Linked DNA regions of Homo sapiens: all the other regions are linked to region 1. Evidence: fine-mapped expression QTL. A gene starts in region 1. Each other region holds a variant in brackets. All regions are shown on one strand. Distances are from middle to middle. Region 1 holds the start of NUAK2 (NUAK family kinase 2). Region 2 overlaps DSTYK (dual serine/threonine and tyrosine protein kinase). Region 3 has its middle 34 kb from the start of NUAK2.

Region 1 (10,237 bases):
GGTTCCACAACACATCAAGACACAATCAGGACTGAAGATGGAAGGATGGTGCCTGGAGAAGCTTCCATCTCAGCCATAGAGATTTCCCTGCCTGCCTCCCATCCCTGGAGAAGGGAATGCCCCATATCTTGCCCTAGGCCAGGCTGTGTAGTATCACCAGCCACCCCATCCCACTTACAGATATACAAATATGCCCACTCCTCTGCCAACACCCTGGAGAGGTAGGTGCTGTGGCTCAATTGGTAAACACTGCCTCCCTCCCAGGGACTCAGATCAGGAACGATCTGGATTCAGGAGAGGATGGTAGAAAGGTCTTAGAAAAAGAAGATCCAGAGATGCTGGTTCCAGGTGGAGGGAGAGAAGGTGCAAGCTGGGCATCTCTGGTCATAGTTATCACCCAGAGCTGGAGCCAAGATCCTTGATTTCTCTCTGGCCTTTTGTGGAGCAGCTGCTGTCTGGGAGGCAGGGCAAGGAGCTAGGGGATGACCCATTTAGATAACGGAGGAGAGGTTGGGCTGGGTTGGCCCAGGCTGGGCAGAGTGGGGGTGGGCCTAGGGGTGGCTCGCCATCCCACCACACCAGCCAGAGAGCTAGGCAGGGATCAGGAATGGGCTCCAAGGGGAGCCTGAGCCACCTCCCTATACTGTGCTGCCCCCTCCTTGCCATCCTCCAGCCCCCTCTACCGGGTTGCTGGGCAAGGAGCTTCCCTGCCCAGCCTTCTTGTGTGGTTTGGCTGGGGCTCAAGGACAAGAGTGGCCTGCAGCCTCCCTCCCTGCCGCTTAGCAGGCAGGTGCAGAGGGAGCTGGGAGGGCAGTGTCCTGCCAAGCAAGCCCTTGGCAGCCAGCCAGGCAGGAGTCCTTCTCTGGAGCTGGGGCCGAAGGAGAGACGAGGACTTTGAACAAAGCAGCAACCAAAGTGGTTTGGCTTAGGGAAGCCAAGCACAATCCATACTCTTTCTCAGGGTAGGACAGACCTCCAGGACGCAGGGATTCCCCAGGAAAGGGAAGGGCAGGACTTCATCAAAGCCAGCCTTGCTGGGATAATAACACTGTGTGTGTCAGACACTGTGCTAAGCACTTTACATATGCTATCTTACTTAATCCTAAGAGAATCCCACGAGGTAGGAATAATTATCACCCCTACTTTACAGATAAGGAAACTGAGGTACAGAGAGGTTGCACAGCTGGTAAGCAATGGAGCCACGATTTGAATGCTTGCAACCTTGACTGTCAGCTAGGCAGCATCCCCAACAAGGTTTGAAACCCAGGAATATAGTGTAGTTCACCCACCCAGAATCCTTCAACACAGTCACTGTATGTGAGGGTGGGGGTTGGTTCCCAGTGACTCTTCCCACCTGAAGCACTGCCTGTAGTGCTGGGAAAGACAGCGGGAGCTAACTGTTGGAATAACAAAGCACACTGAGGCAAGCCTGGGCTCATCTCAAGACCAACTCCCAGTCTAGGACTCAGTACTTGGTCATCCAGGAGCCCATATTGCAGGCATGCCACTCACCAGCTACAGGATAAGTCACTTCCCCTCTTCGGGCCTCAGCTACTCTATCTGTCAATGAAGGACTCGGACCACCTCAGTCATTTCCAAACATTTTGAAATCCTGCACTGCACTCCAAAACATAAAAAAGACAGAAGCACTCTTGCTCCAGAGCACCATACACTTGGACTCACGGCCCTAATGGTTCCCCTTGGAGGTAAGACTTCCATGCAGATCATCCAAAGGCTTTGGTGGACTCCACCATTTCAGAGACCCCAGCATGTGTTTTTCTCTTTAGGGGAAGGGGTGGCCAGGGGAGCTGGGTGAGTCCCAGGAGGAAATGTCATTTGGATACCAGGAATGTATTGAAGAGCCAGAGCAAATATTTGTTTTTCCTTTGATGTCCTCCTAGAGCAGCCATTAGTTCCGCCCACCTGCCCTTCCCTCAGCCAATCCCATCTGGCCCTGATAATCCCATCTAGGCAGGTTGGGAGCGGGAAGTGTGCTAGAAAGGTGGAGAGAAAATTGGGATGGAAGTCACCCAGCTGGCTTTCCTCTGAATCTAGCTCCCACCAACAATCTCAATTCATTCTAGGGGAGGTCTTGGGCAAGCTCCCACACCCCTCTCCCGCACTGAAGTATCCTGAGGCACTAGGTCTCTCTCGATTCACGAAGGACAGTCAAGAGGCAGGGGTGGGGTGGGGTGGGGAAGAGGCAATGCTCCAGAATTGAGAAACCATTAGCACAGCAGGCAGCTGCTCTCCAAGAAGGAAGGAGACCCTGAGCAAGTTCCCAGCTGCAGAACTGGGTGGTCTATGGATCAGGGAGGTTCACAGCAGGTCCCATGCCTACTGATCTTGGCTTCCTACATAGAGCAAGAGGCATGAGGCCAGGGAGTATCTTCTGATGTAATAAGAGCTGGAATCCCTGCCTAAATCCACTTAAGTTTGAAAACTGAAAGCTAGTTTATCTCATTCTGGAATCAAATGAGATCTCTCTCTTACTCTCTCTCTCTCATGCACATCCACACACACACCCCACAGTGACCTGGGTCAAGAGCCTGATGGGAACTCTGAACTTCAATCTCAGTTTCTCAGTCTCTGGGCCACCCCAGTCCCCACGACCCAGTGTCTCCACCCCCAAGAGGCACGAAGCACAAGCCACCAGCAGCTATTTTCCAGCTAAGCCCCTGACAAAGCCTGGGTCCAACAGCCTCAAGCCTGGAGCCTCACCGGGCCCTCACACTTTGCAGAAAGAGAAAGAAAAGGCAAGCCAGGAAGTACATGATTGCCCAATAGCTGTAACCTGGCAGCAGGCAACTGGGGACTGTGCCAGGCGATAGCAGGAAAAACATACTCGGTCCTATTGATGGGGCCATAATCTACCCCTTTCTCCAACATCCACTCTCCTTCACCAATGAAATGACTTCTTGAATTTCAAACCAGCTACTGGCTGCAAAAGCAAACACAATCTGGGGAAGTAACTGCTGATGTAGCCAATAGGGCAAACCATACACACACACACACACACACACACACACCCCCTCACAACCAGCACCCAACTGGATTTGGCAAAACATAATAATGCCTAAACCACCTGCTCTAAAAGGCTTGTTAAAATATACATTATATGGCCCTATCCTAGACCTTCAGAATAAATTACTCTGGGTGTGGAACCAGAGAATGTAAGTATTTTAAACAAACATCCCAGGTGATCCTTACGTACTTTAAACTCAAGTTTGAGAACCAGTTAACCACTGCTAACTAACTTTTGACAAATTTGCCATCCTTTCTGGGCTGCCCTTTCCAGAAATTCTCACTGCAAGTTCTTTTTTTGTTTGTTTCGTTTTGTTTTGTTTTGTTTTGTTTTTGAGACGGAGTCTCGCTCTGTTGCCCAGGCTGGAGTGCAGTGGCACGATCTCGGCTCACTGCAAGCTCCGCCTCCTGGGTTCAGGCCATTCTCCTGCCTCAGCCTCCCGAGTAGCTGGGACTACAGGCGTCCGCCACCACGCCCGGCTAATTTTTTGTATTTTTAGTAGAGACGGGGTTTCACTGTGTTAGCCAGGATGGTCTCGATCTCCTGACCTCACGATCCGCCCGCCTCGGCCTCCCACAGTGCTGGGATTACAGGCGTGAGCCACCGCGCCCGGCTATCTCACCGCAAGTTCTATGTGTTAGGAGCAATATAAGTTCATATTTCGATCTTATTCAATCCTCACAGCAGCTTGTGAGGCAGGCTGTGTTTTCTACAGTTCTGCAAAAGGGGAAACAAAGTACAGAGATGAAGGAAATTGCCCAAGGTCACACAGACTGCTAGACTCCTACGCTCGCACCAAAGTAACAGGGCATGTTCTTGAAAAGGCCCCCAAACCGAAAGGTGTCTCTGGTACAGTGGACCTGGTTTCACATTTTCCAGAATCAAAAACTCATCATAATGAAATTTCAACTAAATTTTAGAGCTGGAAAGGACCTAAATGTCAAAACCCACCCCGTGCCAGAGCTCCAGTGTGCTGGGTTGCCAGATTCTTGGAGTTGGGGAAATCCACACCTCATCCATTCATTCAACCACACACATATTTACCAAATACCTATTAAGATGGGGTGCCTTCTACTTCCTCTTTCCATTGCACTCTATTGAACAGTCTTTTCCCAGCAAAACTCAACTTAAGTCCCATCCATCTTATCCCAGGACACGACACGATTCGTTTTTCCGCGCCAACTATCCATAGCCTCCCTTTTATTTGGCAATCATCACAGCAGTACGGTGTTGCTGGCTGGGGTTCGCAAGTTTGCGACCACTGTCCCTGCAATCACGGACTGACACATCTGCCAGGGACACCCCGCAGTAGCCCCGCAAGCTCAGCGCGGTAAAGACCACGCTGGCCTCTCCGCCGAGCAACGAGCGAGCCGCCGCCCGCCCTCCTCCGCTCCCTGCCGGCGGCCAAGCCGGAGCCCGCCCCGCGCCGCGAGAGGGAGCCGCACTCACCAGGCGCCCCGAGCTCTCCCGCGCCTTCTTCACCTTCCCGTAGGTGCCTTTGCCCAGGGTCTCCAGGAACTCGTAGCGGTGCCGCAGGTTGTGCTTGTGGTGGTGCCGCTTCACCGCCTGCTTCTTCATTAGGGGCTTGGGCGACTTGATCAGCCCTTCCGCCAGCGGCCGGGCTAGCTCTGCGGCCGAGGGAGTGGGGCCGGAGCGCCGCGCGAAAACCAGCGACTCCATGGCGAGCAGGAGGTGAGCAAGGGCGGCAGGGGAATCAGTAGGCTGTGCGGGGAGGGCTGAAGCGCGGGGCACAGGTCCCGCACCAGGACGGGGAGCCACAGCAGTACCAGAGCGCGCAGTAAAGCACAGCATTCCAAGTTGTTATAAACGCCCTGAGCCCGAGGCCCTGGACACGCCCCCCGGCGCCCATTGGCCTGCTCGACGGCGGCGCGTGACCACGGCCGTCCACATTGGCTCTCCGGGGCTCCAGGCCCCGCCTCCTCCCCCTCGGCGTGGCCGGGAAAGGTGTCAATGGAACCCGCCCACCAGGAATGGGGACTAGGGGATTCCAGCGAAGGCCGCCTGAGGCCCAGAAGCTTACTCTGAGGGCCCTTGGAGCTGCACTTGCCTCTGAGTGGCGCTTGGTCCTGCTTAATGCCCTGTTGTTTTATTGTACTCTGTTCTCAGTTGGCAAGGGGCGATCTGAGGGCACTAAAGGTCACCAAAGTATTTCTTCATCCTGAGTAATTTGCTTGTCCCAAGCCAAAATCTATAATTGCTTGACCACTTCATTGAGTCCATAAAGGAGAAAGGGAGCTGGGATGGAACAGAGGCAGAATCCAGCCTAGTGGGAGGGTTAGTGCAGAGCTGTCCTATGGTTCGAGTTCACTTGTCTTCAGTTAGATCAACCTTACTTGGATATTGGAATCCAATGGCCCTGGAAACTTCTTCCTTCTTCCTCAAAGAGGGCTTCTTAGGCGAATCGCTTGAGGTCCAGGAGTTCAAGACCAACCTAGCCAACATGACGAAATCCCATCTCCACTAAAGATACAAAATTAGCCGGGCGTGGTGGTGCGCGCTTGTAATCCCAGCTACTCTGGAGGCTGAGGCAGAAGAATCGCTTGAACCCAGGAGGCAGAGGTTTCAGTGAATCAAGATGGCGCCACTGCACTCCAGCCTGGGCAACAAAGTGAGGCTCCGTTTCAAAAAAAAAGAGGGCTTCTAAGGTTTAGTAGATTCCCTCAACCACTTAGTGGAATTTATTTAGGATGTGTCGGCTGGAGGTGGAGAGAACCCGAAGGGATACATATTTATTTAACATTTTTACATGCCGACTATCTAACCTGTGTCCCTAAGTCTGAAAATGGTTGCTCCACCCAAGGTTTTCTTGTGATTTTGGTGCCAGGAGCACTGGTGGTAGGTTATGAGGTTTGACTTGAGACGGAGTCTCCCTCTGTCGCCCAGGCTGGAGTGCAGTGGTGCGATCTCTGCTCACTGCAAGCTCCGCCTCCCGGGTTCACGCCATTCTCCTGCCTCAGCCTCTCCGAGTAGCTGGGACTACAGGCGCCCGCCACCACGCCCGGCTAATTTTTTGTATTTTTAGTAGAGACAGGGTTTCACCATGGTCTTGATCTCCTGACCTCGTGATCCGCCCGCCTCGGCCTCCCAAAGTACTGGGATTACAAGCGTGAGCCACTGCGCCCAGCTTGACTTAGTTTTTGAGGCCTGGAGTTGCTAGGTCCAGAATCTCCACTCTGAGTGCTCATTTACAGTGAAATGAGAATGGCCATAGGTTTTCCTTCTTGCTTTAAATGGCAGAAAGGGAACATTTCCCCTTTGGCCATCTTGATAACCTAATCCTGTGAAATGAGTATTATTCTGTCCAAGGCCACACAACTGGTAATAAAGTGGCGGGATTTAGACCCTGGTCCTGAGGAAGAGAATAGAGGACAATAGACCTGGATCCTCTTCCCTGAGGGAAACCCCTTCTGCCAGCCAGTTTAGGGCCCTGGATGGATTCTAGCTATGCTGGAGAGCCAGCCTTCCCCTCAGGCCTTCAGGAGGATGGTGCCTCCCCTGTGTATCCAGGGCATGCTGAGGATGGAGAAGGACCCACCCCCAGTGGCTGCCCACTTTTCTACTTCCACTGATCCTTTGATTATTTTTCTAGTGTGAGTTACAGATGTCTCCATCCCTCCATGGAGCTCTTTATCTCCTTTGTGACTGGAGAGGATCCATCTTACACAGGAAACCAATGTATCGCTCCCAAATTTGGAGGGCCACAGGAGGTGGCAGCTGGTTTGGCATTCTTCCCTCCACCAGCCTCCCCTTTTGCTGTGGGTTTTCTGTGCAAATAGGATGAGGCCCAGAGATAGTTGCCTTGACTTGCTATCTCCTTTCCCCTCTGAAATCTGCTTCTATTCCTGGGGGCTCATCCAGATGATTAGAATTCTCAAAAGGAAGTATGGATAACATAAGAGCAAGCACAGGGCCGAGTGTTGGGGGACCTGAGTTCGAGTCCTGACTCTGACACTAACCAGTTCTGTGGCCTTCTACTAATTACTTCATTCTACAAATACTGGTGCCCACTAGGTGCTGAGCCTGGGGACACAATCATGACAAGATTCCTGCCTTTGGAATGTTCTCAGTCTAGTGAGAAATAAACAAGTAAATCCTGTACAGAGGGAGAAGGGTCCATGATGGAAGAAGAACAGATTGCCTTTTCTTTTTTTTTGAGACGGAGTTTTGCTTTCGTTGCCCAGGCTGGAGTGCTGTGGTGTGATCTCGGCTCACCACAGCCTCCGCCTCCCGGGTTCAAGCGATTCTTCTGCCTCAGCCTCCTGAGTAGCTGGGATTACAGGCATGCGCCACCACACCCGGCTAATTTTGTATTTTTAGTAGAGACAGAGTTTCTCCATGTTGGTCAGGCTGGTCTTGAACTCCTGACCTCAGGTGATCTGCCCGCCTTGGCCTCTCAAAGTGTTGGGATTACAGGTGTAAACCACTGCGCCCGGCTCAGATTTTCTTTAAGATATGTATCCCAGGTGGGAGGAGGCTGGTCAGGCGCAGGTTCCTAAAGCCAGGACTTTTTAAGTTGAGACCTGAAGGACAAGTGGCAATTGGCCAGCTGAATCAACATTTCTTCATAAGATGAAAGAATTATACAGATGAGCTTAACGCTTCTTTTAAGGCTTAATCTAGCTACACTCCTGTAATTTTTTCCAGGTATCCCCAACACCCAGTGTGCTGCGAGGCACCTAAAAGTCGCTCCATAGATGCTTATGAACTGAAGGAATGGATGTGCGATGGAATCCAAAGATGAAACTAAAAGCACCTACATGTGATTGGGCCCACTCCATTACCAGCTATCTGGCCATGGTCGGGAGGGAATCATCTGCAACTTCTTGGACCTTCTCACCCCTGCTCCAGCTTCCTTTGACTACAATCTGAATTCCCATCTAGGTGAGGAGCCATGGGTGACCAAAGATCACAGCAGGTAGGCAAGGAAGACACAGAGCCAGAACAGCATGTGACTCGGAAATGATCTAAGCTGCTGAAACTCATATCTCAAATTCCTTAAAGGAGGTCTAGTTGGTGGGAAAGCGAGAGTGCCTGACAGGGAATCCGTGTTGGTCGGGGACTCTGCCACCAGCAGTCTTGGGGAATTCCTGGGTCATGTGGTCGGATGTGTGGATGTGCTGAGATATCTGGGCTGAGCTAAGCTACTCTCAATCCTGCCTGCCCCACTATTGACTCCTGGAAGGGAGACGCCTACCCCCCAGCCCCAAGTCCCATGGCTGATCCATGTCTGAGGGGGTCATGGGGGAAAGCTGTTTATTGGATCTACTATGTGCTGTGCTGGGAAAACAAGTGGGAACAAATGTCTGTCCTTGTCCTTACACACTTCACAATTTGTGTGTGTGTCTGTAGGGGAGTGGAGGTGGGTCCAGACTGGTAAAAGGGGATTTGAAAGCAGCTCAGTGTGTGGACTGCTGTGATGTGTCCTGGTGGGAGCAGGGTGCAGGTAGGAGCAGAGGTGAGAGGCACCAAGGCCATGCCATGGGGGTCACGTGAGGGTTGGGAGCAGGTAAGGCAGATCTCAGATACCTCTAAGATGAGTCTTGAGCCCTGAGGATGAATTACAGCCTGTAGTATTCCCTACCTCCCCTCCAAGAAAGGGATGCAAATCCTGTTAGTCGCTGGCAAATTGGGAAGCCTAGCTCAAAGCTGCCCTCTTCTGACCAAACTAAGCCTAGCATGTTTTATGGGATGCCCAAAGCTGTGACCACAAGCAGAAGTCGGCTTAGGCAATTTGTTCCTCCAGTAAACCGTTCATTTGTTCATTCATTCATTCATTCAACAAATATGGACTGAGTAATTGCAATAACAGCTATAATGATATCTAACATTTATTAAGCCAGCCCTGGTTCTAAATTCTAAATTCTAGTATGTCTTGCCGGAAGTTTGGAGAATTTGTGCCGCAAACACTGAAAACAGCCCTCAAACTCTCAATTACCCTGAGAAACCGAATGTTATTCACAGACCAGGCCTGGGAGGGGATGTGACTGAAGGAGAAGCTAGCTCTTCTCCCCAAGCCAAAGAGCTTGCCCTGTCTCCATCCTGGAATGGGAGGGAGAGCACACGCAGAGAGACAGGACGCAGGCGTGCCGGGGTCCAGCTCCACTTCCACCACCAACCCACACCATGCCATGGCCAAGGACTTTCTCTTTTAGGGGTGGTTCCTTATCTGTAAAAGGAGATTTGGATAAACCAACTCTCAGTTTTGTTTCAAATCTGCTTTAACTTCTCTGCAATATCTAAGCAGGGACAAATTAGAAACCTCAAGGGCTGGGCGCGATGGCTCACGCCTGTAATCTCAGCACTTTGGGAGGCCGAGGCAGGCGGATCATGAGGTCAGGAGATCGAGACCATCCTGGCTAACATGGTGAAACTCCGTCTCTACTAAAAATACAAAAAATTAGCCGGGCGTGGTGGTGGGCACCTGTAGTCCCAGTTAGTCAGGAGGCTGAGGCAGGAGAATGGCGTGAACCCGGGAGGCGGAGCTTGCAGTGAGCAGAGATCGCACCACTGCACTCCAGCCTGGGCAACAGAGCAAGACTCCGTCCCCCCCACCCAAAAAAATTAGAAATCTCAGCCACTCGCTTTCTTTTGCCACCTGGTAACTGATTCCTTCAGTACTGGACATTCAGGAGCCCCATTCCGTCTCGCATCCCCAGGCTGGCATAATGTTTTTGGCTCAAGAGTCTGGCAACCTGGGCTTCAGGCTCTGCTCTGTCACTAACTGACTGTGACTATAACTCATGTCTCCACCACTTCATGTATAAATAAGAATTATTCTTTTATGCAGCTAACATACTGTGTGTCAGCCACTGTTCCTTAGATTTCCTGTATTCATGAATTCAATCCTTTCTACAACTCTATGAAGTACATACTAGCCTATGATATCCCCATTGCGTGTGAGAAAAGTGACACAGAGCAATTAAGGGCCTATGCAGGGTCACAGAGTTGTCAAGTGGTGAAGCCAGATTGCCTGGGGTCCAATCTGGCTCCAGAAACAGCACTCTTAGCCCTCATACTTTGGCTTAGAGAGGATTCCTGACTTGCCTAGAGTGTCAAGTAGACTAAGCTGCTCTGCGTCATACTTTCCTCATCTGAAATGACTACCTCCTGGGCTTGCTGTGGGATGAAATTAGAAGTGAGGTCGTCAGACTGATGGTTTCCTATCCGTCTGCCTGGCGCTTTGCTGGGCTC
Region 2 (10,237 bases), 160 kb before region 1:
TCAAACAATTATGAAATATAGAAGTTGGAAAGTCATGTCCTTCTGTCATTTGTTCCTAAAATACTATATAAACATACAAAATTCCTACTCCTATTATCTTTCCTCACTCTGAAATGGGCAGGAATTAACTGAGCTCACTCCATTCTCCCGAGAGTTAGGAAAATATCCACATGAAAAATTTATTGAAAAAACTTCCTATAACAATCTAGAAAGAAAATATACTGATGATTTTAATATACATATGTGTGTGTGTGTATATATATGTGTATATATATGTATACACACACAGACACACACACATATTATATATGAAGAGCGGAGAGCGAAATATTCCCATCTGGATGAGGCTCTTCTCTGCTTGATCCAGCTGTATCTCCTTTCCTACATACCAACCTGCCGCAAGGAGGCTGCAAAAGCCTCGTGGGAACTATTGAGCCGAGTCCGGAATTGGCTGCAAATGCTCTTAGCCAATTTGGAGGCGCTGAGGCTCTCAATGGCTTCCTGGGCCACCTTCCTCTTCCATTCCAGAGTGATGGCAGGTGGGCTCACCCATGTGATGCGCTGGATGATCTACCAGGATGAAGACAGCGAGATCACCAAGGAATGAGAGACAAGAACCACTACAAAGATCCAGTGTCCTTCCTTTTCTGGGTTACCCATTCATTAAGAGCAGGCTCATAAGATGGGAGCCATACGAAGTCCAAAGTTCCTTTCCAATTCCATCTACCACAAAATCAGGTCCTAGCCCAGAGAAAAGCATCAAAGAACACCAGGCCTAGTCTACATGCTCACAAACCCTCAATATATTACATTCAGTGCCAGGGAGTGCCTGATAATCTTTCTGAAGTCAGTAAATAACTCTACATAAGAGCCAGATCAAATTCCAGAACAGAAACCACATTCACAGCCTCTGGCAACAACAAAGCCTAGTTCTGAGAAAAGATTTAGGCTGGGAAAAAGAAATATGAAGAAGCTAGTGTGGTAGAGTCTTATGGCTCCATGAAATATCATTTATCTTTTTTTTCTATTTTTCCATTGTCCACAAAGAGCACCCAACATAAAAATCATTTAAACCCAAAACTTCTGAGAGTTCAAGGGAACAATGTTAATAATTATTTAAGAATAGGCATAAACCAGAATTCTCCCAGGCAGGCAAACCAGAACAAATGGTCACCCTGCCTTAACAGAAGATCCTAGATATCTGTTTCCTACTGGGGTCACTATGATTCATTTGAGCCAACTAGGGGCTTTGAAATCTTTCTCTAAGTAATAATCCCTACCTGTTTGATTTGCTCCCATAGCATCCTTGTAACTGACGACCCTGAGTGAAACGTGACTTCAACATGATAGGCAGCATTTAAGATCTGAAAGAGACAACGCCAAAGAAAACATGTCCTCAGTAGTGTGGCTATTTTAAAAATGCAATAAATGATACTTATTTCAAGAACACAGTCCAGACTCAGGGTTTCCAAACTTACCCCTCAATATATATGCAGAGTCAACTTAAGCTGATTATTTATTTTGTGACTATCTAGCCCCTTCTACCTCATCTTTATATTCATCAACTTATTTTTTTATTTTTTTTTTTATTTTTTAGACAGAGTTTCACTCTTGTCCCCCAGGCTGAAGTGCAATGGCGTGATCTTGGCTCACCGAAACCTCTGCCTCCCAGGTTCAAGCGATTCTCCTGCCTCAGCCTCCCAAGTAGCTGGGATTACAGGCATGCACCACCACGCCCAGCTAATTTTGTATTTTTAGTAGAGATGGGATTTCTCCATGTTGGTCAGGCTGGTCTCCAACTCCCAACCTCAGGTTATCCGCCCACCTCAGCCTCCCAAAGTGCTGGGATTACAGGCGTGAGCCACTGTGCCTGGCCTATATTCATCAACTTAACTGCAGTTTTACAGCTCACCAACATCTCCCACAGGCAGTGGTCATGTGACAGGAAAACAAAATAAAATTCAAACAAGATTCGCAAGAAGCTGAAAGGGAAATTCTTGCCTAATTTGAAGTGTGGACTTGTGCAGATTTTTCATGTGCTATCTATGACACGATGTCTTAAAAATCATTCTTTGTCTACCTGTTTGAGATAATTACTGGTGATGTGAACTGAGACATCCTGAGACTTCTCCAGGCTCTGCAGACATCGTTCCAGGGTTCCGACGAAGCTTTCCCTCAGGTAATCCACTGAGCTGATCAGCTTATTAGCCACTGCCTGATTAAGTCGGGAGATGATGAGTTCCTGGATCTGTCGGATGCAGCATTTGATCTCTCTGGTGCCTACTGGTTCTCCATTCTCAGGGACAATGACGTCTATGGAGGCAGAGAAATAAGCTGAATAGTTGTGAGGAAGAAGGGGCAGACACACTAAATAAAGTCATCTCCCAAATCAGAACCATGGAACTACCGTGATGATGATGGCTGCAAAAAGACATGATTCGTTGATGATGTCTAACTCTCACAATGATCAGGGGTCACGTAACCCTCAACTACTAAAGGCAGCTAAGATCCTGAGAAGAAGCAATTAAGTCCAGGTGCAGTGATTCACGCCTGTAATTCCAAAACTTTGGGAGGCTGAGGCAGGAGGATTGCTTGAGCCCAGGAGTTCAAGATGAGCTTGGGTAACAGTGAGACCTCATCTCTACAAAAAGTAAAAAGATGAGGCAGGCGGGAGGATGGCTTGAACCTAGGAAGTAGAGGCTACAATGAGCTGTGATTGTGCCACTGCACTCCTGCCTGGGTGATGGGAGTGAGACCCCGTCTCAAAAAAAAAAAATAAATAAGAAGCAATAAGTCTAGAATGAGACTGTTGATTTTGTTAGCTTTTTTTTTTTTTTGAGACGGAGTCTCGCTGTGTCGCCCAGGCTGGAGTGGAGTGATGCAATCTCGGCTCACTGCAAGCTCCGCCTCCCGAGTTCAAGCCATTCTCCTGCCTCAGCCTCCCGAGTAGCTGCGACTACAGGCACCCGCCACCACGCCTGGCTGATTTTTTGTATTTTTAGTAGAGACGGGGTTTCCCCATGTTGGCCAGGATGGTCTCGATCTCCTGACCTCGTGATCTGCCCACCTCGGCCTCCCAAAGTGCTGGGATTACAGGTGTGAGCCACCGTGCCCGGCAATTTTGTTAGCTTTTATGTCACATTTATAGGAGGGGAGGAACAACATTTATGAAGTGCAAACTATTTGAAAGGCACTAAAATAAGGATTTTACACATGTAATCTAATTTCATCTTCACAATAACTTTGTTACATGGGTATTATAGATCAGGAAACAGCCTCAAAGAGAGAACAAAGTAGACATGGGAAGGGAATAGTACAGTTAGGAAGTAATACAGCCAGCTTTTGAACCCAGTGCTCATTATTCCAAATCCTATGATCTTTGCAAAATTTCACACTCCCTAGCATATTAATGAGAAAAACCCAAGAGTCAGGAATTGTATTCTATGTTTTGTTTTGTTTTGCTTTTTTTGAGACTGAGTTTAGCTCTATCGCCTAGGCTGGAGTGCAGTGGCACGATCTCGGCTCACTGCAACCTCCGCCTTCTGGGTTCAAGTGATCTTGTGCCTCAGCCTCCCAAGTACCTAGGATTACAGGCACCCACCACCACGCCAGACTAATTTTTGTATTTAGTAGAGATGGGGTTTCACCATGTTGGCCAGGCTGGTCTTGAACTCCTGACCTCAGGTGATCCGCTCACCTTGGCCTCCCAAAGTGCTGAGATTACAGGCATGAGCCATTGCCGCCGGCCAGGAATTTTATTCTAATCAATTACTAGATAAATAAAAAGTAAAACTCAATTGTCCCCACCATGCCACACTATCTCTTAGGATTAGAACATCTATTAATGTTGTAAATCAGAGGACAGAAGAACTTGAGAGAAGTCAAACTACTTGCAAAAAGATGTGCTCCTGAAAAGGCACTCTCATGTCTACTGGTGGAAACTTAAATGGGTGCCACTTCTTCAGAGGAAATTTGGCAATATCTATTAAAATGTTCAACCAACCAAGAAAAATCTACATACCCTTTGATCTAACTATTTTGCTTCTAGGAATTCTTTTTCTTGAGATATACCCTTACAAGTCCCAAGGTGTATATGTACAATGATGATTAATGCAGTACATTTTGTATTAGCGAAAGAGAAAATAAAAAATAAACAAATAAGCCTGGCCAACATGGTGAAACCCTGTCTCTACTAAATACAGGTATGATGGTGTGATGGTGCACACCTTTAGACCCAGGTGTGATGGTGCACACCTTTAGACCCAGCTACTAGGGAGGCTGAGGTGGGAGGATTCCTTGAACCCAGGAGGCGGAGGTTGTAGTGAGACTAGACCAGGCCTCTGCACTCCAGCCTGGGCGACAGAACAAGATCCTGTCTCAAAAAAAAATAAATAAATAAAAATAAAAAACAAAAACAAACAGCTTAAATGTCCACCAATGAGAGAATAGTTCAATAAATTCAGGCATATCCATTAGAAGAAGACAAATTTGTATGAATATTTATGGAATGCCCTCTAAGATACATATTAAATGAAAAAGACAAGTGCAGAAGAACATATGGAGAAGAACTGGGTGGCTGGGGGATGGTGTCTTTATAACTCTGAGTTAAGTACTATACATATAGGTTTTATCTTAAAAATAAATTTTATAAAGTGTGAATATCATGATACCTAGCACATATGCATTGTCTTTATTTAAAAACAGACAGTAATAGTAATCTGGCTCAACGCTGGGCACGATGGCTCATACCTGTAATCCTAGCACTTTGTGGGGGCTGAAGCAGGAGGATCGCTACAAGCCTGGGCAACACAGCAAGACCTCGTCTTTACAAAAAAAAAAAAAAATCTGGCTCCATAGAATATGTGCTAGCTTGCTTCTAAATCTTCTTATTGTTTCAAGGATACTCAGAAAGCACTTAGAACAAGGTAAGAACAATCGGATACTTTACTGTCTGCCCAACCTAGCTGTCCTGACCTCCATTCTGTGTAATATGATGCCGGCAGTGATGCTCTGGTGTCTTTAATCAAATATTGAGAAGACTTCCTAAGATTTCCACTGCAAGTAACACTTCTCAACAACTCCTCTCGCAGTGGGGAATTAACCAAAGAGGTA[T/A]CTCTGTTCATCTTTAGAATGACTATAAGAAATCAGGCAACCTATGTTTGCTAAAGTCAACCATACTTCCTTTGTATTTATAAGTGTAACTTAAACTAGATACCATCATTCACACACTCATTGATTCTCCAAAGACGTACTGTATACAAGAGTCTGTGTTATTTGCTGCAAGGAATATGATGATGAATAAGACCCAGATCCTACCCTCTTTCAACTCTAGGATTTTAGGAAGTAGTCCGCAGTACATAAATAACTATAATAAAAGATAGAAAGTGAAATATGCCAGAAATAAGTTACAGATGGAATGCTATGGGATTTCAAATGACTGCAATTGTTATTAGCTAAGAAAATTAAAGCAGGGCTAGGTGTGATGGCTCATGCCTATAATCCCAGCACTTTTTAGGAGGCCGAGGTGGGAGGATTGCTTGAGACCAGGAGTTCAAGACCAGCTTGGCCAACATGGTGAAACCCCTGTCTCTAAAAAAAAATACAAAAAGTTAGCTGGTGTGGTGGCATGTGCCTGTAGTCCCAGGTGTGCAGGGGGCTGAGGCAGGAGGATTGCTTGAGCCCAGGAGATTGGGGCTGCAGTGAGCCATGACTGCACTACTGCACTCCAGTCTGGATGGCAGAGCAAGAACCTGTCCCAAAAATAAAAAAAGAAGGAGAAAATTAAAGAAGACTTCATGAAAAATGGCATTTGGGAGACAGGCCCTGATGGGTAGGTAGGATTTGGAAGTTCACAGACAAATCAAAGACATTCCAGGTTTAAGGCAGGGTGTTAGCAAAGAAAAAGTAAAGGGAGCGTATGGAGGACAGAAAGAAGTTAAGACCAACTGACATAGAAAATACAGGAAAGTGCATAGTGGGGAAATAAGACTGGAAAAGTTGGTAAGGGCTAGGCTTTGGGAGGTCTTTAATACTAGGTGTAGGAGTTAAACTTAGTCTGTAGAAGTAGGGAGCCAGTAAAGGTGAACTGAAGAAAGAAGTCAGGGAGATCAGTTAGATAACAATAGTTCAGTTAGACTTAAGACAGAATAGAAAAGCATAGATAGGTATCGAATACGTAAGAAGATTAATCGAGGCCAGGTGTGGTGGCTCACGCCACCCAGCACTTCGGGAGGCCGAGGCGGGTAGATTACGAGGTCAAGAACATCCTGGCCAACATGATGAAACCCCGTCTCTACTAAAATACAAAAAAAAATTTAGCCGGGAACGGTGGCACACGCCTGTAATCCCAGTTACTCGGGAGGCTGAGGCAGGGGAATTGCTTGAACCCAGGAGGCGGAGGTTGCAGTGAGTCAAGATCACGCCACTGCACTCCAGCCTGGGCGACAGAGCGAGACTTAATCTCAAAAAAAAGAAAGATTAATCAGTACTTGGCAACTGATTAGCCAAGGGAAGACAATTCAAGACCATGCTGAGGTTTTGAAGGTGGGTACCAGGAAGAAGGTGGCATCAGTAACTGGAAACAGATTAAGAAGCAGTAAAGGATGGAAATTAAGAATATGGGCTCAGGAATCAGACTGTCTGGATTCAAATCCTGCCTCTAATATTTACTAGCTGTGTGACCCTGGGCAAATTACTTACTCTTTCTAAGCCTTAGTCCCTCATCTAGAAAAAGGAAATAAGCAGAATCTACCTAGGGAGGTTATTTTTTAAAAATACTGATGCTGGGTCCCATGTCAGAAATCGTGAGTAAGTCTGCAGTCATCTTTAGTGGTCTTGAGCATGTGTATTTTCAGAAAGCCTCCCAAGGGATTAGGATACTCACAACTGAGACTCTAAAGGGTAACTTGCAAACCATGTCATTTTAATCTTGCATGGAGGTTTATACAGAAGTCAGTATACAAAATCAGCAGCATCTCAGACACCCAAAGACCTGACCAATCACTTTCACCCAATTTTGTTAGTAGCCATTTGTGAAGAATAGGACTGTCAAAAGGCTAAAAACACAACTTTGGGAAATCCTCCTGATGTGGGCTTCAGAAGCAGCCTGAAAGGAAATTAGACCATGAGACAAAAAGAACCAATAAAGAGGCATGAGCCATACTGCAGGAGCAAAGGTTAAAGCACAATTTACTAACATTCTCCAAGCAGCTCTTCTCCAGCTCCATTAGGGGTTGAGGGGGTACAGGCAGAAAGTGGAGATTACAGAGCTATTAGGATGAATTTACCAAAAGTTGAGCTAATGTTCTTGGGAAGGAATGAGGGTGGAATCTTCCACAATGATCTTTGAGAGCAAGAGAGGCCACCTTGGCTAAATAGTGGGCTCCTGCTGGTAACAGTGGGGTGGATGAAGTTACCCTGAGATTCCTTTAACCTTAGGAATTAACGTTCTTAATTTCCGGCTAGAAAATGGTTAGAGACTCCTCCCGTGCCAGCACCCCAACAAGCTCTCTGGGACCTACCTTTAAACTCCATGTTAGTAGCATCATCCAGAAGTTCCTCCTTCATGGTATTAAGTGTCTCAACAATCATATCCTTCATTTCCTCCTGCTTTCGGTTGGCAATATTCATCAATGATTCATACAACTCATTCTCCTTTTTTCGAGTATATTCCAGACGTTTGGGAGTGATCTGCAGGTCCCGCTGCATGTCAAATGCCTGGTTAATAAAGATGTCAAGGCAGTGGCAGTGCACCAGGTTCAGGGCCTTGGCTGCATCCACCAGGCGAGTCTGTAACACCTGGTGAGAAAATGTGCTCAAGTGTCTCAGCTTTTCACTCTGTTCCACCAACATGCTCTGAGCTTTAGTATCCTGGCCAGGAGCCCCACAGTTCCAGTGACTGCTGCTCAGATAGCCCAGGTCAATTAGCTGGCGATAAAGCGGTGATCTTTCGCTCTCCATTCTCCTGGTTGAGGAGTCTATTATCTCCGAGCCCAGTTTCGGCACTTTGAAAAAGAATACAGGAAAGGAGAAATACTTTCGGATTTCCTGAAGCTCTTGCTCATCCCTCTCAGAGAGTTCATCTTTGTGGAGTGCATAGGTTATCACAGGCAAGAAATCATTCACCAAGTCACCCAGAACATCCACTGTGGGCCGGAGGCCTTGGCATGGTGCTACCACAACGTCCACTTCCTGGAAGGGGAAGGGGGTCATATATCAGCGCCTCAGGGTCAGAACCAATCCCTGTCTCCCCAAAGTCCCACACTGAGACCAAAATCCTGATCTACAATGGAACAATTGGACTTCGGTACCCCAGCCATTGATCCACCTCCTTCCTCGGTTACCAACACTCCCTGGTGCAGCCTATGAAGGCAGGCACTCATCTAGAGAGAGTGAAAAAACAAAGAAGTAGAAAGGATGGCAACCCCTTTAGCCATCAGATTAAAAAAAAATTTTGGTCTCTGCCTTCCTTTATTGCTTAGACATTCCCACTGATTCCCTCTGATGAAGAATTAAGACAAATAATGGAAGAAAAAGGAATTGTAATGGAAATTATCAGACTGGGAGTGAGTCGACCTGGGGCACTCCTCCCCCTCTTGCTCTCCTCTGACACCTCCATCCCTGCCATTCTGACCTGGCTAACTCCTAAGCATCCTTTAAGTTTCAATGTATATGTTATGACATATCCTTATAGAGCCTTTCCTATCACACAGCCCCAACCAAGCACACTTTACTTCCCTCTTCTTAAGGTTCAACATATTTATAATCCACTTCTTTAAAACCTTTCTTTCCCCCATGGGTCTGTAAACTCTTTGAGGGCAGGGACTGGGTCTATTTTGCTTACTATCGTAGCTCCAGTGCCTAGCATGTGGTAAGTCCTAAATACTGTTGAATTAATCAATTAAGCAGGAAACGAAAAGCCAGGTTCACCAAACATTATTACTGTCCTGTTCTGAGTCTGTAGATATCCCGAAGTCTTAGCAACCTAAGTCTAAGAAATACCTTTAGGAATATGATCGATCACTTGGTATGGCAAAGACCAAGGTTTGCCTATCCAATATCTAGTCTCCATGTTATAAGTGAAGGCAATGTCCTTTACAGATAGGGGTATCCGATAAGTGGGTGGGGTTTCCAGGAAAGCCCTTTAGGGTACAGGGGGTGGATTCTACCAGGAAATATGTCCTTTGGCCTTGTCCTTCTTCCTGCTTGGAGCACAGATGTGACAGCTAGAACAGCAGCGATCACTCAGCAGCCCTAAGGCAAACCTGATGGTGGAAGCCAGCACTAAAGATGATGACACCAAAAGAAAGAGGGAGCTTAGGTCTCTGGTGATCACAGAACTGCCATGCCAGCTCTCAGTTACCTAGCTTCAGACTTCTTTCATGTAAGGAAAAAAAAAAAAACCCAAAAACTCTATCTTTAAGTTCCTGGTTTTTTTGTGTTTGTTTGTTTGATGATCTGTTACAATTGAACCTAATCCTAACTGAAATACCCAAGTTTGCTAAAGTGAGTTTCGAGAATGATCTTTAAGCTCGGCGCAGTGGCTCACACCTGTAATCCCAGCCCTTGGGAGTCCAAGGCAGGAGGATCGCTTGAGGTCAGGAGTTTGAGATCAGCCTGGCCAAGATGGCAAAACCCCATCTGTACTAAAAATACAAAAATTATCCGGGTGTGGTGGTGGGCGCCTGTAGCCCCAGCTACTCCAGAGACTGAGGCAGGAGAACGGCTTGAACCCAGGAGGCGGAGGTTGCAGTGAGCTGAGATCGCCCCACTGCACTCCAGCTTGGGCGACAAAGCAAGACTCTGTCTCAATTAAAAAAAAAAAAAAAAAAAAAGATCTTTGAGGTTTGAGGTTTAGAAACAAACCTTCCACAGGTCCTTTGCCTCGTCTGCACTTTCCACTTTGTGTTCTGCTTCTTTCCTGTGAAGGTTCCAAACACACAAGAGCATATGTCCATCTACTGCATTTCCATCCATTGCACAGGTTGTTCCTCTGTGTCTCTGACATTGTCTACTTTGCCTGGCATTCCAGGTGTAAACGGTTAACTAGGGACTCACACATATTAATATATTACCACTGTAGGTACACAGACTCCTGATGTCTTCAAGGGTCTGTAAACTCAGAATCAATCCTCCATAGAATTCTAGCATATTTTAGAGTTATAAAAGAACTCAACACAAATATGCTCAAGTTTGTGTCCTTAACAGTTATCAGATGTTGAATATTTACTTTGTCTGA
Region 3 (10,237 bases), 34 kb before region 1:
CTTGAAATCTATCGGGAAAGACAGAGATGAAAATAGGTCAGTGACAAGAGAGCTTGGTAAGTGCCAAAATAAAGTCAGGATCTGAGGAAGAGTACAGAGCAACAAACTGCCAGAGGCGAGCTGGATCAGCAGGCAGAGCTCTCTCGGCTCCATGACACACCCATCATCACACACTTCACCCATCCCAGCGCCTCGTTAGCCTTCCAGCCAGAAAGTCTTTTTTTTGGGGGGGATAAGGTCTCACTGCAGTGCAGTGGCACCATCTCAGCTTACTGCAGGCTTGAGCTCCTGGGCTCAAGCGATCCTCCCACCTCAGCCTCCCGAGTAGCTGGTGGGACCACACCCACTAATGCACCCGGCTAATTGTTTTTTTATTGTAGAGATGAAGTCTCACTACGTTGTAGAGATGAAGTTCACTATGTTGCCCAGGCTGGTCTTGAACTCCTGGGCTCAAGCAATCTTCCCACCTCGGCCTCCCAAAGCAGAAAGTCCTTTCTGTTACCTCGTTTAAGTGTCCCTTGTCCAGCAGTGCCCAGTACACCTGACCATGGCCAAGGACCTCACCCTATGATCTCAGCAACTAGAAGACAAAGGGCTGTTAGGCTGGATGCGGTGGCTCACGCCTGTAATCCCAGCACTTTGGGAAGCCAAGGTGGGTGGATCATGAGGTCAGGAGATCAAGACCATCCTGGCCAACATAGTGAAACCCCGTCGCTACTAAAAATACAAAAATTAGCCAGGCGTGATGGCATGCACCTGTAATCCCAGCTACTCAGGAGGCTAAGGCAGGAGAACTGCTTGAACCTGGGAGGCGGAGGTTGCAGTGAGTCGAGATCATGCCACTGCACTCCAGCCTGGGTGACAAAGCGGGATTCTGTTTCAAAAAAAAAAAAGAAGAAGAAAGAAAGAAAGAAAGAAAGAAAGAAGGAAGGGAAAGAAAGAAAGAGAGAGAGAGAAAGAAAGAAAGGAAGAGAAAGAAAGAAGGAAAGAAAGAGGCGACTGTGGAAAAGGATGATTAGGGACGCTAAGGAAGGTAAGAGGTATTTTATCCTTTTGTACAAATTTGCCTCAGCCTCAACTCCTCATCTCTGGTGACAAAAACGTTTCTTTCCCCCCGGGGACAGGGAGAAAAGGGAGGAGGTCAGAGTTTGTCTTTTGTATCAGCTGTTTTTCAAGTGAGAGTAACCCTTATGCTGAAATGGCATATTTTGGTGTGGCATATTCTGTCCCTCTTCAAAGATACATGAGACGACATATGCAAAGCATTTTGCATTGTAAGATGCTTATTACTGTCACTTCACAGATGGGAAATGAGATCTAGGCAACTCTCAGGGTCCAGCCACCAGAAGGTTGAGGAATGCGGGCTCTAACCTACATCTGTCGACTCCAAAGCCACACAGCCGCCCACACAAGGTAGCTCTTTTCCTCACCTCACCCCCTGAGCTCTGGAACACCTTTGTTCTGCCCAAACGAGAATGAAGCAGCAACGGAGGCAGCGGCAGGGGAACTGTAAGGTGGCCCCAAACTCAGACTGTCCCCAAGTTGGAGGCCTGCTAGGGCCTGGGAGCACAGCAGTCCCCCACCAGGGAGTCTTCCCTTCCCCACCTGCCCACTGCAGACTGGGCACCCCTGCTGCATGTGTCTGACCTCTGTGAACCTCAGTTTCCCCAACATACAATAACCCTGACAGTCTGTCATTCTGTGCTTCTGTGACGTCAGCCTTAGGAGTTATCAGGGACCCAAACTTGGGCTTCACAGGGGGCAGGATGGAGGCCCTGCCACTCGGACCAGACCAGGTTGTGGTGAGGGGCAAGGGTGGTGCCTCCAGGCACCAATCCAGAGTGACCTCACTCTCTGCAGGCTCCCCTGGGGCCCTGAGGGAGGGTGGGGTGCTGGACAGGCCTGCTAGATGGGAGCAGGTTTGGAAGGAGGTTTAGGAAGGGTGCGGTGGGGAAGGTGTGCCGCTCAGGTTCAGTGTGATCACTAGAGAGGGGCACGCCTGCCTGCATCGTCTGCCATGCCAGACAGGGCAGGACAGCTTCTCCCCCAGCCTGGGCCTTTAGGATCCACTGTGTGACCATCCTGAGCCCCTTAGCAAGGTGTGAGCGGGGTTGGACACCCTCCCCTCAACATCCATCTAATGTCAGCCACCAGCCCTGCCTTGCTGCATGATGGGAAATCAGGGTAAGGGAGCCAAACCCCAGCTGCTCTCAGAGCTGTGAGGACAAGAGTGGAAAACCTGCCCTCACAGGCCCAGCTGGCCAGAGGGCTTGTCTCTTTCAGTCGCCCTCCCCCAGAGGGAGCAGGAGCAGACAATGGCCACCATGACTCACCAGTGAGCCATCTTCCCCTCCCCACCCCTCCAGCCTGGCCCATGACAGCTTAGCTTGTCCTCCAAGGGAGCTGCAGCCCAGCCTCCCAGGGCCGCCAGCTTCCTCTCTCTTCACCCAACCTGGCTCCCCCCCTGCTTGTGCAACACCACATCAGAGGGTTGTGAAGTGGAGAGGGAGGAGTTTGACAGCTGCAGACCCAGGCAGACAGAGCAGACTCCTTTGTGAAGGAGATAGAGGCTGCAGGGGCCCAAGTCCAGCCTGTACTCCCCTGCCCTGACCCACAAGGCATCACCCAGTCTCCCCAAACCCTAGGGAAGTGGTCATTGTCATTTATTTGTTCCTTTCTTAGATAGAGCTTGGATCCTGTCTGCAATTTATTCCTTCCTGCAAAACCAAGTATGTGAGGCAGAGGAAAGTCCTATTCCATTCCAGGAGGGACAGGGCTCCCTGTTGGAAAGTATTTCCTTTTGCTAAGTTTCTATCTGCCTCCCGGGTAGACTCCACTAGGCAGTATTTCAAGAAGTTAACGCACTTCCAATCCCCATCTAACCTATATTCTTTGCCGCAAGCCAAATACCCTTAGTTCTTTCAGTCATTTCTCCTAAGACATGGATTTAAGACCTTTTGACAGCTTGGCCTGTATCCTCTGGAAACATTTCCATTTACCCAAGTTCTTCTTAAAACATTATGTCTTTGTCCAGGTGCAGTGGCTCACGCCTGTAATCTCAAAGTGGAGGCTGAGGGAGGAGCATCAGTTGGGTCCAGGAGTTTGAGATCAGCCTGGGCAAGATGACAAGACCCCATCTCTAGTTAAAAAAAAAAAAAAAAATTACTGATTCTCACCAAAAAAAAAAAAAAAGCCAGGCGTGAAGACATGGGCCACCTACTTGGGAGGCTGAGGTGGGAAGATCGCTTGAGCCTGGGAGATCAAGGCTCTTGAGCCTGGGAGATCAAGGCTGCAGTGAGCTGTGATCACGCCACTGTACTCTAGCCTACGCGACAGAGTGAGACTCCATCTCTAAAAAAACGAAACTAACCAACCAAAAAAAAAAAAAAACCACAAAAAGCATGTTGTTTTGAACAGAGCGCAGTGCTCCAGCTAAGGTCAGGCCAGCACAGAGGGTGCTAATGAAATTCACCTCGCAGGCTCTGGCACTGTGGTTCTCATGAGCTCTGTTAGCTTGCCGGTATTTTCAGACCCACATAGGCATGTCCTTGTTGAGCAGGTCACTTCGGTTCATGAATACGGCCACCAAGGATTTGAGGCCCCTCTGCCTGCCCCCCATGGAGGGAGCCCTAGGGCTCAGATGGTGGCTCTTAACAGACCTCAATGGTCTGATGAAAACTCTGCATCCTCTTCCAAGAAAAACGCATCTACTCAAAAATTCTCTATATGACACCAGGACTCCCTGCAGACCATCCTCAGACCCCAGGTTAGGAATTTCCATCTGGAAGCTGATACTCAAAAATAAATTCTGAGGCAGCCTCCCTATTCAAACTGTGGGGCTCAGGGCAAATTCAAAGTAATAAAGTAATAACCTCTCACACGAGTGCTGTGCTCGACAACTCACAATACACGTTCACGTACATTGCTGGGATAGACCCTAGGGTCTGGATTATAATCGAATAAAGGAGGTCAAGGCCCAGAGAGGTCCAGTGACTTGCTCAAGGTCACACAGCCAATCTGGGCAAAGTCACTCCAGACTCTCTTACCTTCATGGGGCCTCACAGAAGCCCAACACAATTTGCCCACCAGTGGGGAAGATGCAATGGAGAACAGGTTGCATTTGGCCCCTGGGGAAACTGGTCCTGGCTGTGTTCAGCCGGCTCCTGCCGCTGCTCCACAGAGGCACACCCAGCTTGGCCTCTGTGGTGAGCTGTGGTGAGCTGTGGTGAGCTGTGGTTTGAGCAGCCTCCCTCCTAACGAAGGCAGAGAGAAGGCCAGGTTGTCAGGCTGTGTCTTGTGAGAAGGAGGGAACCAGAGGAGGGGCAACGGCAGAAACCAGACCTGAAGCCTGAACCCCAGGAACCCAGGGGACAAAGACTCCCTGGCCACCACTTGTCCCAAGACTGCAGACACCTCACTGGCCAGGAGCATACAAGCAGGAGTATACAATGTGGCCGGGGGTGCATAGGAGTCAGGATACAGAGCCATGTTCTGTGTGTATGATGTTCACATACAGGAGCCAGACTTGACCATGGGAGACCAGTTTTTAAGTTTCCAAGGAATTCTTGCTCCCTAAACATGTACTTGACCCAGAAAACTCTTCAGCCTTCAAGGCCCAACTCCCTCCACGAAGAATCTGTCCAGTGTCTGATGACTAAAGGCCCTGGATTCAGATCCAGCTTAGGCACCGCCTGGTCATTATCTGACTTCTCTACAGACTGTGCCTCTAGTAGGCTGGAGCCCTGGACTCAACTCAATATTTCACCCCTGCCCCTAGCAATAGGGGGTCAATGGACATTTGTTCAATAAGCTCTAGACACCAGAAAGGGTGAACTGTCTCTTGGCTTCAGTTGTTCTGTGACTTCAGGCTAAATCCAAAACCTCTGCGGTCAAAGAAGGCCATTGCCACCCCTCCCCACCCTGTTCCCTCTTAGGTGGAAGGCAATTGTGGCCCTTAGAAACCCTCTGAAGAAGCATCTAACAGCTTTTCTCAGGCCGAAATGGGAGAGGGTGAAGGTTTAGGAAAGAAAACGGTCATTCTTATGTCTTTCCCCAAACCAGATGATTTCCCTTTGTTCCAAACAGTTGGCAAAGACGTCTGGGCAGAGAAAGGGTCCTGACTTGATGCACTGCTCTGCAGGCAGCTGGGTGACTCCGGCCTCTGTTGGTTTGCAGCCTGGGCCAGGGCTGGGGAGTTGCTGAGGGGTGGGCTCAGGCTCACAGTAGGTAGGCTGCTGCTTGGGCTTTCAACTATTACCTCTGATCACAATGAATTCATGAATTTATATTAGTTTGATGCATATCTCTTCCACTGGACTTCCAACCTCTGGAGCGCAGGAACCACACTGTATTTAATTCTGGAGCCTCAGGGCCTGGCACAATGTCAAGCACACAGTAAGTGCTCAGTAAGTGCTAGAGACAAAAACGCACTGCAGCCTCCCTGCCAGCCTGATTTCTGGAGCATCCCTGACTCTCTTAATGGAAAGAGCTTCTCAGAGCTTCCCAAGCTGACTAGAGGAGGGACTGTCATGGTCATGGGCCCTGCTTCCCTCTTATAGTTCTCTTAGCTGGAAGGCAGGATCCTTCTCCTCTGAGCTGCTTCTGAGGCCACTTATTTGTTTATTTCCAAACCCAAAAATGCTTCTTAGGTTTTGCTGCCACCTGACTTGAAGCTCTGACCACCCCAGTGCTACTTCTGCTCTGCCCCATCCAGACATCAAGCGAGATTCATTCCCCCAGCCTCAGACAAACCACACCCCTATCACAACCGTAACTATTCTTAGC[A/G]GAGCAGGAAGGGGGGCGCTGCCGAATGACCTCGCTGCCTATAGAGACTTCACCTCCACCCACCCTTCACTCACCCGGTGTCACTTCCCCCTTTTAATAACAACAACACTGACACCAAGTTTCACTTCCACCACTTCCTGTGGGTTTTGTTCATCCTCAGCTGCTGAGGTTTCTAGAGGGTGGGTGAGTCTCTGGCCCAGCTGCAGGAAGGTCCCTCTGACTATAAACTCTACCCCTAAGCATTTAGAGGCTTGCCCTTCAGTCCTCAGACACATTCACCTTTCTTTTTTTTTGCTTTTTTTTTTTGTTTTTTTTTTTGAGGTAGAGTCTCACTCTGCTGCCCAGGCTGGAGTGCAGTGCAGTGGCACGATCTTGGCTCGCTGCAACCTCTGCCTCCCAGCTTCAAGTGATTCTCCTGTCTCAGCTTCCTGAGTAGCTGGGATTACAGGCATGTGCCACCATACCTGGCTAATTTTTGTATTTTTAGTAGAGGCAGTATTTCTCCATGTTGGCCAGGCTGGTCTTGAACTCCTGACCTCAGCCTCCCAAAGTGCTGGGATTATAGGTGTGAGCCACCGCACCTGGCCACATTCTCCTTTTTTTTCTTTTTTTTTTTTTTCCAGACAGAGTTTTGCTCTTGTTGCCCACGCTGGAGTGCAATGGTGTGATCTCAGCTCACCGCAACCTCCGCCCTCTGGGTTCAAGCGATTCTCCTACCTCAGCCTCCCAAGTAGCTGGGATTACAGGCATACACCACGACACCCGGCTAATTTTGTATTTTTAGTAGAGACGGGGTTTCTCCATGTTGGTCAGGCTGGTCTTGAACTCCTGACCTCAGGTGATCCGCCTGCCTTGGCCTCCCAAAGTGCTGGGATTACAGGCATGAGCCACCACACTTGGCCCACATTCTCCTTTTTTAAAGCTGTCCAGAATAGGGGATTCTCCATCCTTCCCTGGGTCAGAATCCCAATATCTGATCCAAGTTCATCCTGTTGACTAACCCAAATCTCTCCTGCTATTAGGGTTGCCATATTTTGCAAGTAAAAATACAGAACACAGAACACCCATTTAAATTTGAATTTCAGATAAACAATGAATAGAAGGCCAGGGGCAGTGGCTTATGCCTGTAATCCCAGCACTTTGGGAGGCTGAGGTGGGCGGATCATGAGGTCAGGAGTTCGAGACCAGCCTGATCAACATGGTGAAACCCTATCTCTACTAAAAATACAAAAATTAGCCGCGTGTGGTGGCGTGCGCCTGTAATCCCAGCTACTCAGTAGGCTGAGGCAGGAGAATTGCTTGAACCCAGGAGACGGAGGTTGTAGTGAGCCGAGACTGTACCACTGTACTCCAGCCTGGGCAAAAGAGCAAGACTCCGTCTCAAAAAAAAAAAAAACAAAAAAAAAAATGAATAACTTTTTAGTTAAGCATGTCCTGTGTAATATTATACTAAAAAAAAATTCATTGTTTATCGGAAATTCAAATGTAACTGGACATCCTTTCTTTTATCTGGCAACCCCCTGCCTGCTGTATTCCTTCTCTTTTTGTTTGGAGACAGTCTTACTGTGTCACCCAGGCTAGAGAGCAGTGGTGTGATCTCAACTCACTGCAGCCTCAACCTCCTAGGCTCAAGGGATCCTCCCACCTCAGCCTCCCAGATAGCTGGGATTACAGGCACATACCACCATGCTCAGCTAATTTTTGCATTTTTAGTAGAGATGGGGTTTCGCCATATAGCCCAGGGTGGTCTTGAACTCCTGGCCTCAAGTGATCCACCCGCCTCATCCTCCCAGAGTGCTGGGATTACAGGCGTGAGTCGCTGCACCCAACCTTGTATTCCTTCGCATGAAAGCAGCAGTTCTCAACCATTTTGATCTCAGGATCTCTTTACACTGTTAGAAATTATTGAGGACACCCAAAGAAGCTTTGTTGATGTGGGTGAATGATAGCTACTGGTATTTACCATATTAGAAAGGCAAACAGACATTTTAAAAGTAGTAATTAAGGCCAGGCGCGGTGGTTCAAACCTGTAATCCCAGCACTTTGGGAGGCCAAGGCGGGTGGATCACTTGAGGTCGGGAGTTCCAGACCAGCCTGGCCAACATGGAGAAACCCCCGTCTCTACTAAAAATACAAAAATTACCCAGGCATGGTGGCAGGCGCCTGTAATCCCAGCTACTTGGGAGGCTGAGGCAGGAGAATCGCTTGAAGCCGGGAGGTGGAGGTTGCGGTGAGCCAAGATCTCACCATGGCACTCCAGGCTGGGCAACAAGAGCAAAACTCCATCTCAAAAAAAAAAAAGAAGAATACAAAAATTAGCCGGGCATGGTGGCACATGCCTGTAATCCCAGCTACTCAGGAGGCTGAGGCAGGAGAATCACTTGAACCTGGGAGGCGGAGGTTGCAGTGAGCCGAGATCACGACACTGCACTCCAGCCTGGGTGACAGAGTAAGTCTCAAAAAAAGAAAAAAAAGCAGGAATTAAGATAACAGTAATATCTCATTATGTACATATGTACAAAAAATAATTTTTCAAAACAAAAAAAATTATTGAGGAGAGTGGCATTGTTCTACATTATTTTACAAATATTTTTTGATTTTTCAATTTTAAATTATGTTAAAAAACATAACATAAAATTACCATCTTAACCATTTTTTTTTTTTTTTGAGACTGAGTCTCACTCTGTCGCCCAGGCTGGAGTGCAGTGGTGCGATCTCAGCTCACTGCAAGCTCTGCCTCCTGGGTTCAAGCGATTCTCCTGCCTCAACCTCTCGAGTAGCTGGGACTATAGGTGCCCACCACCACGAGCGGCTAATTTTTTGTATTTTTAGTAGAGACAGCGTTTCACCGTGTTAGCCAGGATGGTCTCAATCTGCTGATCTCGTGATCCACCCGCCTCAGCCTCCCAAAGTGCTGGGATTACAGGCGTGAGCCACCGTGCCCAGCCCATCTTAACCATTTTTAAGCATATAGTTCAATAGTGTTAAATATATTCATCAATTGAGACCAGAAGGTCAAGGCTGCAGTGAACCATGATTGCGCCACTGCACTCCAGCCTGGGCGACAGAGTGAAACTCTGCCTCAAAAAAATAAATAAATATATTCACACAATTGTGCAGAGGTAGATTCTTATACCTCCAACTGCTGCATTTGGTATGTTGTAATATCACACACCGTGAATCTCTGGAAAACTCCACTGTACACTCATGAGAGAATGAGAGTGAAAAAGGCAAATGATGTTTCCTTATTATTAGTAAAACAGTTCTAGGCCTATAATCCAGCACTTTGGGAGGCCAGGTTGGGTGGATCACTTGAGTCCAGGAGTTCGAGACCAGCCTCGAGGGCAACATAGTAAGGCCCTGTCTCTACAAAAAGTACAAAAAATTAGCCAGGGGTGGTGGCACGTGCCTGTGGTCTCACCTGAGCCCAGGAAGTCAAGGCTGCAGTGAGCCATGATCACACCACGGCACTCCAGCCTGGGTGACAGAGCGAGACCCTGTCTCATAACACCACCACCACCAACAACAAACCCCACTTCTGACTGTGTGTACCTTCTGAAAAGATTTGGGGAGCCCCCAGGGGTTCCCCCAGGGGTTCCTGGACCACACTTGGAGAACCAGTGCTCTAGCACAATGCCAGAGACTTCAGTGGTGATCGGTATCTACTCCTTTGCCCCGCAAGTTAATTTGGGATGGGGGATGATGTGACACCACACACATAATTTAATGTAATTCCAAGCTGTTCTTTTTTCTGAGATGAGTGGTGCAGATGTGGGGAATCTTGGGGCTAGAGAGACTGCCCCAAAAGGCCTGGGTATGGGACTCAGTTGTGAGGTGGACCAAGCTGACTTAGCTGTGAAGGACAGAACTGCAGTTCTGTGTTCCTGGAGCCTTAAAGAGGCATCTAAAGAAAGTCAACCCTGCTAGGCGGAAAGACAGAATGGGTGAGCCTGGTGGGAGGCCAGGGTCAAGGAGCCAGCCGTGTGCTGCCCACCCCACCCCCAACCATGACTGGCGAGGGAGGGAGTTGACCAACTCCACTCCTCACCCCTACCTGGCATCTGTCTGCCTATTCTTTTTTTTCCCCCTTTTTGTGGAGAATGGGGTCTTGAGATATTGACCAGGCAGGTTTTGAACTCCTGGGCTCAAGCTACCTTCCGCCTCTGCCTCCCTAAGTGCTGGGATTACAGGTGTGAGCCACCACGCCCAGTCTGTCTGCCCATTCTGACCCTCGTGGGCATTTCCAGCAAGGGCTGGGACAGCAAGGCTAACATTGCTTATGAGGAATGACTTGGGCTCTCAAATATCTGCTCTACTAACTCTGCCCCTGGGCCCAGGCGTGCAGAGCCCCACAGCTGGGGGGCTTATTCCTTGACTGACCAATCCAGTGACGCAAGAGTGGGGACCGAAAACAGCCAGTTTTCAGTGTAGCCACGTCAACACAAGCAGTCCC

What was found.
Region 2: its variant is fine-mapped to the expression of NUAK2 in whole blood (INTERVAL, PIP above 0.99).
Region 3: its variant is fine-mapped to the expression of NUAK2 in whole blood (TOPMed, PIP above 0.99).

The regions. Positions count from the first base shown.
Region 1 is chr1:205,316,924-205,327,160 of GRCh38, forward strand. It overlaps NUAK2 (NUAK family kinase 2), which reads right to left and starts at 4,822. Exons shown (of 7, transcript NM_030952.3): 1 at 4,475-4,822. The coding sequence starts at 4,705. RefSeq lists a silencer at 4,329-4,508.
Region 2 is chr1:205,161,643-205,171,879 of GRCh38, forward strand. DSTYK (dual serine/threonine and tyrosine protein kinase) reads right to left here. Exons shown (of 13, transcript NM_015375.3): 3 at 7,521-8,190; 4 at 2,081-2,313; 5 at 1,281-1,364; 6 at 394-570. Among named protein-coding and RNA genes, the nearest start is that of RBBP5, 45 kb to the left of the region's middle. The variant T/A (reference allele first, on the strand shown) is at 5,113.
Region 3 is chr1:205,282,535-205,292,771 of GRCh38, forward strand. No RefSeq gene overlaps it. Among named protein-coding and RNA genes, the nearest start is that of NUAK2, 34 kb to the right of the region's middle. RefSeq lists enhancers at 1,964-2,063, 9,147-9,386. The variant A/G (reference allele first, on the strand shown) is at 5,785.